Linked DNA regions of Homo sapiens. The protein of the gene in region 1 purifies or fractionates together with the protein of each later gene. This does not show direct contact. Each region holds a gene or a part of one and is shown on either strand. Other genes may lie near its edges. The genes, in order: PLA2G4D and GSTZ1.

Region 1 (3,812 bases):
AGAGCAACATGGGTAGTGGACAGAGCAAGGAAGTGAGGGCCAAGGAGTGGCAACCACAGAGGTCAGTTAGATGTCAGCCATTCCCAGAGCTCCCAGGGAGGGCAGCCCTTTGGCAAAACAAGGGTTACCTTTGGTGACCCTGCTGCCAGCACTGCCCACCCCTCAGCCCTTCCGGACGGGAAGCAGGCATATGACTTAAGGGAGGGTGAGCCTCAGCAGCCCAGTCCACAGGCGCTACCCTGGATCTCAGCTATCTGCACTGTAAGGGGTATGAATGAGGAAACTCCAAGAGCATCCAGCCATCACAGGGAGCAGTGGGTGCTGTGGGTGAAAGGCCACTGTGTATTAAGATGCTGATGAGGCCACATCAGCCACAGACAGCCCAGGTGTGAGGGAGAAGCAGCTGAGTGGGCAGAAGCTGGAGGAGAAGATGAGCCGAGAGTAGGTGGCAGGAGGGAAAGCAGATGGCCAGAGGGGCGTGGCTGAGGCCTGCTGGGGTCAGAGCACTGGGGGTGTCCCCACACCCTACTGCTGAGGTCCCCGGCACTGCCACGATCAGGAGGGCCCTGGAGTTTCTGTTCTTCCTGAGCCCTGCAGCACGGCTTTTTCTGGGCATCTGGCACAGGTTTCTTATAAGCCCCTTTGATGTGAGGTTACTCAAATCGGTTTGGCAGGGCAAATGGCATTTTTTCCTGTGGGCTGACCCCAAGGAAGGCTGTTGGCCTTGCATCCTCTTGGAAGGGAGCCTTCCCAGGAGGACCACCTATGAGGCACGTGGCCCCAGCAGAAAGAGCCCATGTCCAGAGGGTCTGTTAGAACAGGGGCTGTCAGGAAGGAACACTGCCTGTGCCGGGGAGTGGGGCAGTGGGAGCCCCAGCCAGGAGGGGATCCTGCAGGGCCACAGCATGGCAGGACCCCCAGGAGGCACCAAGCACATGAAGGCCTATGAAATGCTAACCCCAGGAGCCATGCAGTGTGGCGGCCCTGCTGAACAACCCAGAGACCACCTTCATTCCAGAAAAAAACCCGTGCTGGGGCTTCTGCCATTCAGCGGCTCTGCCACCAGGTTAGACTCCCCATTAAGTAAGTACGATCTTCTCAGACCCTATGTCCCTTCACCCGCTCCTCCCCGACCCTGAGGGAGCCAAAAGCCAGTGCAGTGTTTGCACAGTGAACATTTGATATCGCATAGCTGGGAGACTGTTGTGATAAAACCAGAGGTGTTTCCTGCTTTGCGCTCTCCCGTGACCAGACCCACTTCCATGCATGTGGTTGGAAGTTCTCGGTGCCCACAAGGACTCGTACCCGCTCTGCACAGATGCTGCTTGCTAGGGGCTGGCTCAGCACCCACGGGGACCTGAATCTCCACTCCCCACCAAAAACTGTAAAGGACCATGGGCCACAGCAAAGCCATATGCCTGGTGGCCCTGCCCCTGCATCTTTCCTCTCTGTGGTTCCATGCCAACGTCCTATCATTCCAGGCAGCTTCCCAGCAGAGCACATGTGACCTCCCCGAGCAAGGTAGATTTGTTTCTCTCTTCTTGGGGATTAACTCCAGTGGCACCAGCAACATGTCAACTCTATAAACCTTAAGCCTTATAGAGGTTGTCAGCAGCAGAGATTTCATGAACTTTGGGACATCTAGCTCCATTTCCTCCCCTCACTCAGATTCCACCACTGCCGGCCACAGGGAGGTGATGGCTGGGATGCTGGGGCCCTGCAGGGTATTGAGTTTGAATGTCCCGCTCCAAGACAAGACAGGTGAAGGGCAGAGGCAGCCCAGCCTCGCTCCCCTGCTCCCCCGGCCAGGCTGATACTCCACAGGTCCACAGCTTGTGGGCTGCTCTAAAGTCACTTGGGCTACTGAGAAGTGGCCCCAGTTACTCACTGTCTAGCCAGTCACCATCCCGGGTTTAAGCACTGTGGTTCATTTCTCCCTCCCATCACTGAGAGCTTCTCAACCTCAGAAAGCCCACCATTCCCCGGCAGGTTATTTTCCCTAGAGAAAAATCCCGATTCTCTTCACCTCTAAGATCATCGCTAACATGGAGTGCCCAGAACATGGTATTATTGGGACAGTGATTACAATGACTGGTCTTTACGGGGGCTTAAAGGCAGACTCTGGAGCCAGGTTGTCTGGATTTAAACCCTGGCCCTGCCACTTACTTGCTGTGTGACCTTGGACAAGTCACTAAACTTCTCTGTGCCTCTGTTTCCTCATGTGTAGTGGAAATAATAGTTTTGACCTCACATAGTATTCTGAGGCTTAAAATGTTAATGCCTGCAGACTGCTTAGGAATAAAGTAAGCAGTTTTTAGGTAACTGCTATTGCTACTACTGTTTATTAAGTATTTGCCATGTTTTCAGGCACTGTGAATGTTGCAGATACCAGGATGAAATCACTTTTGTCAGACCCCGACAAATTAGGGCTGGGAACGCATGAAAGAGCAGAGCTCGTATTTACATGTCTGAGATGAGAGTTGTTTCCAAGGACTTCCTACAAACCCCACAGAAAACAGCTTCACATCCTTCATGCCAAAGTCCCTCTTTGACAGGAAGAGGGAAATGAGCAGACCCGCCCTGTTCCCTGCTAGCACCGGTGCCCTGTGGTGGGGTAATGCAGGAGGTCAGAGAGAAGAGGAGTGGAACACCTGGGCACAGCCCCTGGTCCTGGGGACTCAGTCCTGTGAATGCCGGCTGGAGGTGAGGCAGTTTCCAGTTGTGGGGCAGACTCAGGCTCCCAAATCGCTGACACTTAGGCTTTTGTTTTACCTGGGAGCTAGACCTAGAGGAGGCTGAGGGAAAAGGGGGAAGGGGTACAGCCTTCGCCAGGGAGATGAGTTGACAAGGTTCATCACTAGACATCCATTAGGACTGCAATAATTCAGATAAGATGCTCTCAGAAAACACGTGCCCAGTAACAGCATCTCCACCAATGAACTGACAACTCTGGCTTTGAGCTCTGGAACCAATGAACTCTGTTTCCAAGCAGTTTCTGTGAGCCTCCCCCTTTTTTCCAGTAAAAGCTTCCCTTTCCCCTTCCCTCACAATTGCCCTGGCGGCCTGTCATTCGACACATTCCGAGCCACAGTCATTTCTCATTCCAGAGTAAACACAACATAGAGATCATTTTCTCTCGTGTCTTTCTGTAGGGTGACAATACTGTACTAACCATATTACCTACCGTGTGGGTGGCAAGCCACCCAGGCGCCGAGGCAAGAGACCGAGGATACAAGCTGTTCCAGTATAATAAAATATAAAACAAGAATAGTTATACCAGATATAGATCTTAGATACGATTATATATGAATATCATTAATCATTAGTTTGTAGCAATTACTCTTCAGTCCAATATTATAATAATCCTCGCTCTATAATCATAACCTAGGAAAAACCAGGCCATACAGAGATAGGAGCTGAGGGGACACAGTGAGAAGTGACCAGAAGACAAGAGTGCGAGCCTTCTGTTATGCCCAGACAGGGCCACCAGAAGGGCTCCTTGGTCTAGCGGTGACGCCAGCGTCTGGGAAGATGCCTGTTGCCAGGCGGACCATGGTCTAGCGGTAGCGAAAAGTGTCAAGGAAAAACATCTGCTACTTAGCAGACCGGGAAAGGGAGTCTCCCTTTCCCCGGGGGAGTTAGAGAAGACTCTACTCCTCCACCTCTCGTGGAGGGCCTGACGTTAGGCTCGCCCGCAGTTACCTGGAGGCCTAACCATCTCCCTGTGATGCTGTGCTTCAGTAGTCACGCTCCTAGTCTGCCTTCATGTTCCATCCTGTACACCTGGCTCTGCCTTCTAGATAGCAGTAGTC
Region 2 (3,812 bases), on another chromosome or scaffold:
TTTCAGGGACACAGGGAGACTGCCCTGATGCAGCAGGGGGAGCAGAGAGGCAGGGCTGGATGAGGTCGAGGGAGCTGTCCAGGGAAGGACGATGGGGCAGCCCTTATTCACAGGGGATGGGTAGGTCTTGTGCAGTATCATTTGGCATCTGTTACCTACTGTTCCTATTTCTTTGTGAACCTGCTATGTGTAAGGCCCAGTGCTAGGCATTTATATATACAGACTCTCTTCCCCCATGTTGTAAGCTTCTTGGGGGCAGGGAATGTGCCATACGTTTCCATATCCCTAACGCCTAGCATGATGCCTTCCAGAGAGGTGCTCATTTGTGCCCTACCAAAGGGTTCACGGAAGGATGCAGAGGTAGAGCTCACTACTGCTCACAGACACACCACATTTGAGGACATCAGGCAGGTGCTCTTGGGGGTCCACCAGGTGAGCCACCTCCTCTTAGGAGCTGGGGCTATCTATACAGGTTCATCTGGGCTGTGGTGGGCGTAGTAGGAGCACTGCCCCAATTTCTTCTGCCCTCTTCCAGGCAGAAGTGGCTATGTGGCCTGGCATGGTGGGCTCCTTGGCTGGTTGGCGAAGCGTCTGCATGAGATGCTATCTCGCCAGCTGAGTGGGGCCTGACTGTGGGCAGAGCCACGAGAAGGGAGGGTGGCGGGGCTCTCTCTTACCTTTCAGCATTTGCCACCTGAGGCACCAAGCACAGATCAGCCATGGTCACCTGAAAGAGGTCCCGGTGGGTTCCCATCAGGGTGCATACCCCAGAGTCAGTGGCTGGACTGGGTGTGTCCACTGCGACTCTACTGGGGGTACCAACAATCTGCTTCGGCTCTTTCACCCATCCCACCTCCAATTCTTGTCTGCCCTAGGCCTGCATGAGTCTGTCCCCCGGAGCTGAAGTGCCCTCCCAGGCCATGCTCCAGTTGCCCTGACAACCAACTCTGTGGGTTGAGAGGGCCAGAGAAGATGGATTGCCTTGACTGCGCAGACATCATCTAGCACAATCCCTCAACTGATGCTGGCCCGCCTCATCCTCTCACAGCCAGTCTTCTACCTTGAGTAACTCCCTCTTAAGACGGTTTAGTGGGAGTGAGCTGAGGAGTGCCCCATGGCACAGAGATCCCCCTGCAGACGCCTTCTCAGGAAGCTCTGAGCTTGAGGGAGGTCAGCATGAGGGAGGCAGCCACTGTGGCTGGGCCTGGGGAGGTCTGGGGACAGCTTACCTCGTCTCCTACACAGTATATGCCCGCTGTGCTCTGTAGGATCTGCTCCAGGGCTGTGGGGAGGCCACATAAACATCTTATTCTGGGCGCAGGGAGGGGACACAAAGCTTTCTGGGCCTTGGCCTCCATAGTTATGAAATGGGCGCCCAACTGAGTGACAGACTGGGCATGGCTGCTGGTGAGAATGTGGCAGCCAGGTCTCGAGAGAGCTGTTAGGGATGAGCTGCTGTTTCCTGAGGCTCCGCACAGACAATCACCATTTCCCCACTCGAGTGGACAAGCCCTGCCACTGGCCACGGTGACAGCTCTCACTCTGATGGCTGGCGCTGTGCTGGCCTTGGTTTCCCAGCTGGAGTAGGCAGTGAAGCTGAAGTTGGGCCATCCAGCTATGAAGGGCTGTGGGCTCAGGGACCGAGGTTCCCAGAAGTGCTGGAGCTAAGGTCTGGATGCCCACCCAGCCCATTGCCTCCCCAGTCCTGCCCTCATCCATGCAACTGTCAGGCCCAAAGCAGCCTGGGAGGCTGGTTCAGATACCCAGGCCCCTGTGTGCGAGGGCCATACCTCTAAGAGGCCACTGTGGGGCAGCTCACAGAGGTGAGGACTCACCGTTAAAGCCACAAGTGATGGCGTTCTGGGCCCAGGTCAGCTGCATCTCCTCTCCCACTTGCTTCAGGACAGACAGGTTCTGTGCAGCCCAAAGAAAATCTGTGATTGCGCTGACAGCTGGGTGGGGGCTACCCCTTCGCCAAACCCCCTCAGGGAAGTTCACTTCCCATCTGCCCCTGGCTGGATGTCTATCCCTTCTCCCCCAGGCTCCATGAGCCCCTTCCTTCAACCAAGGGCCCTGAGGTTGGAGGGAGGTAGCCATCCCAGCAGCCACCTTTGCAGGCTGCCCCAGTGGCCTCAAAAAGCCACGTGATTCTGTCAGAGATGTGCAAGAATCCCTATTCATGTGACACAGGACGCGGCCATGGCTGTGGCAGGTGTGCCCACAACTCGAGGCCTGTCTCCCTCACTTCTCCCTTGCATGGTCCCTTGTGAGGAGAGGGAGTGTGAAAGAGGGTGGGGCTGGGATGAGGGAGGTCCACAAGACCGGCTTCCAGAGATTTCCAGCCTGGCTCCATCTTGGCACCCCTGGAGCCATTTTCCCTCTGTTTCCTCATTATAAAATGGAGATGTCTGTCTGCTCCAACATCCTTTGTTAAAGCGACATGCGGGTAGAGGGCATAGGCATGCAGGGATTCTGACTTAGTCCCCACTTTGTTATGACCTACCTGTGGGACTCCTAAGTCACTCCACCTTTCTGGGGCTATTTCCTCATTCAGAGTAGAAGCTGGCACAGATGAACTGTTTTTAATACTTAGTTGTCTGTTTTAACAGTGACACTTAAAAAATAAAATCCTACAAGTATCCCAGTATATGACTGAGATAGCACAGATGAAACGGAAGCTGCTCTGGTTAAAGGCAGGAGGCCTGGACTGGGGCCTGCTCAGTCTCTCCCCTGCCATTCTGGCCCTTTCCCCACCCCAAGCACCTGTACATGCGTCCTTGGAAACTAGAGCTTCTCGGAACGCAGCGGGGGACCCGCTGGGGGGCTGAATTCTGAGATTGCGATCTTCACCCCCTTCTTTCACATGGTCCAGGTCAGAGGCCCTGAGAATCCCCCTCCCTCCCTTGACACCCCCGCCCCCACACTGGGCAGCTCACAGCCAATGTGTGAGTGTAAGAGTGTGTCAGGTGTGCAAGGGTGCAAGTGTACAAGTGCCACACCTGCAGGGGCTGGATGCCACCAGCGATGAGGTCAGAAATCATACGCACGCTGGCCCTCTTCTTTGGGTCCTGAGGCAGAAGTCGCGGAGTGGGACGCATCTCCTCTAGATACTCAATGATGGCCAGCTGTCCAGAGGGGAGCAGTGAGGCAGGGAGAGGGCCCAGGACCCCTGGACCAGAGGGGACAGGGCCAGCAAACTCCTCCTTCTCCTCTTCCAGCACCATCACTACACCTCTTCCCCCCTGCTTCTGCTCAGCTCAAGCCCTATAAGCCTTTTTGGACCTTATCATGCAGAACTTGGTTCTCCATGTGCTTGAATCTTCCCTTATTTTCCTAAATAACCTCGCACCCTCCCCACGAGTCTTGTATTGAGCCTCTCCTATGTGCTAGGCACCTTGACTGTACACAGGCGAGGAAGAGATGTCAGGCGCTCTCATTCAGGGCACTGCTCTCATGAGGGCCCTCCCCCAGGCCCTGCACTCACTGACTGGTGAATGGTGATTCCATCAATCTTCAGGGTTGGCACCTGCTTCATAGGATTCAGTGCCTGGAAGTCCTTAGAAAACTGTGGAGACAAGGCCCTGGTGGGCTGGGTGGCCTGGCCTGAGTTGGCCAGAGGAAAGCCAAGCAAGCAGGAGAACCCCAGGCCTGCCACCCACCCCCATCTCCCTTCCCTGGGAAGGCCCTAAATCCTAGGCCCAGGGTAATCCCTGGGGGATCCATGCAGTCTCCCAAAGCCCAGCTGCTGCTGAGCCATAGGCTTCATCCTAACAGCCTGGCTATGGGCTTTCCCTGCATCTCACACCGTGGCC

The links.
Region 2: the proteins of PLA2G4D (region 1) and GSTZ1 purify together in Homo sapiens (affinity purification with mass spectrometry; one large-scale study listed by BioGRID and IntAct). This does not show direct contact.

Annotation. Positions count from the first base shown.
Region 1 is NC_000015.10:42,087,965-42,091,776, forward strand, and holds part of PLA2G4D (cytosolic phospholipase A2 delta), read right to left. Parts: intron 1-3,812. UniProt on the Homo sapiens protein: Calcium-dependent phospholipase A2 that selectively hydrolyzes glycerophospholipids in the sn-2 position. Has a preference for linoleic acid at the sn-2 position.
Region 2 is NC_000014.9:77,327,225-77,331,036, reverse strand, and holds part of GSTZ1 (maleylacetoacetate isomerase), read right to left. Parts: intron 3,566-3,812; coding exon 3,485-3,565; intron 3,126-3,484; coding exon 3,000-3,125; intron 1,915-2,999; coding exon 1,836-1,914; intron 1,283-1,835; coding exon 1,230-1,282; intron 728-1,229; coding exon 678-727; intron 1-677.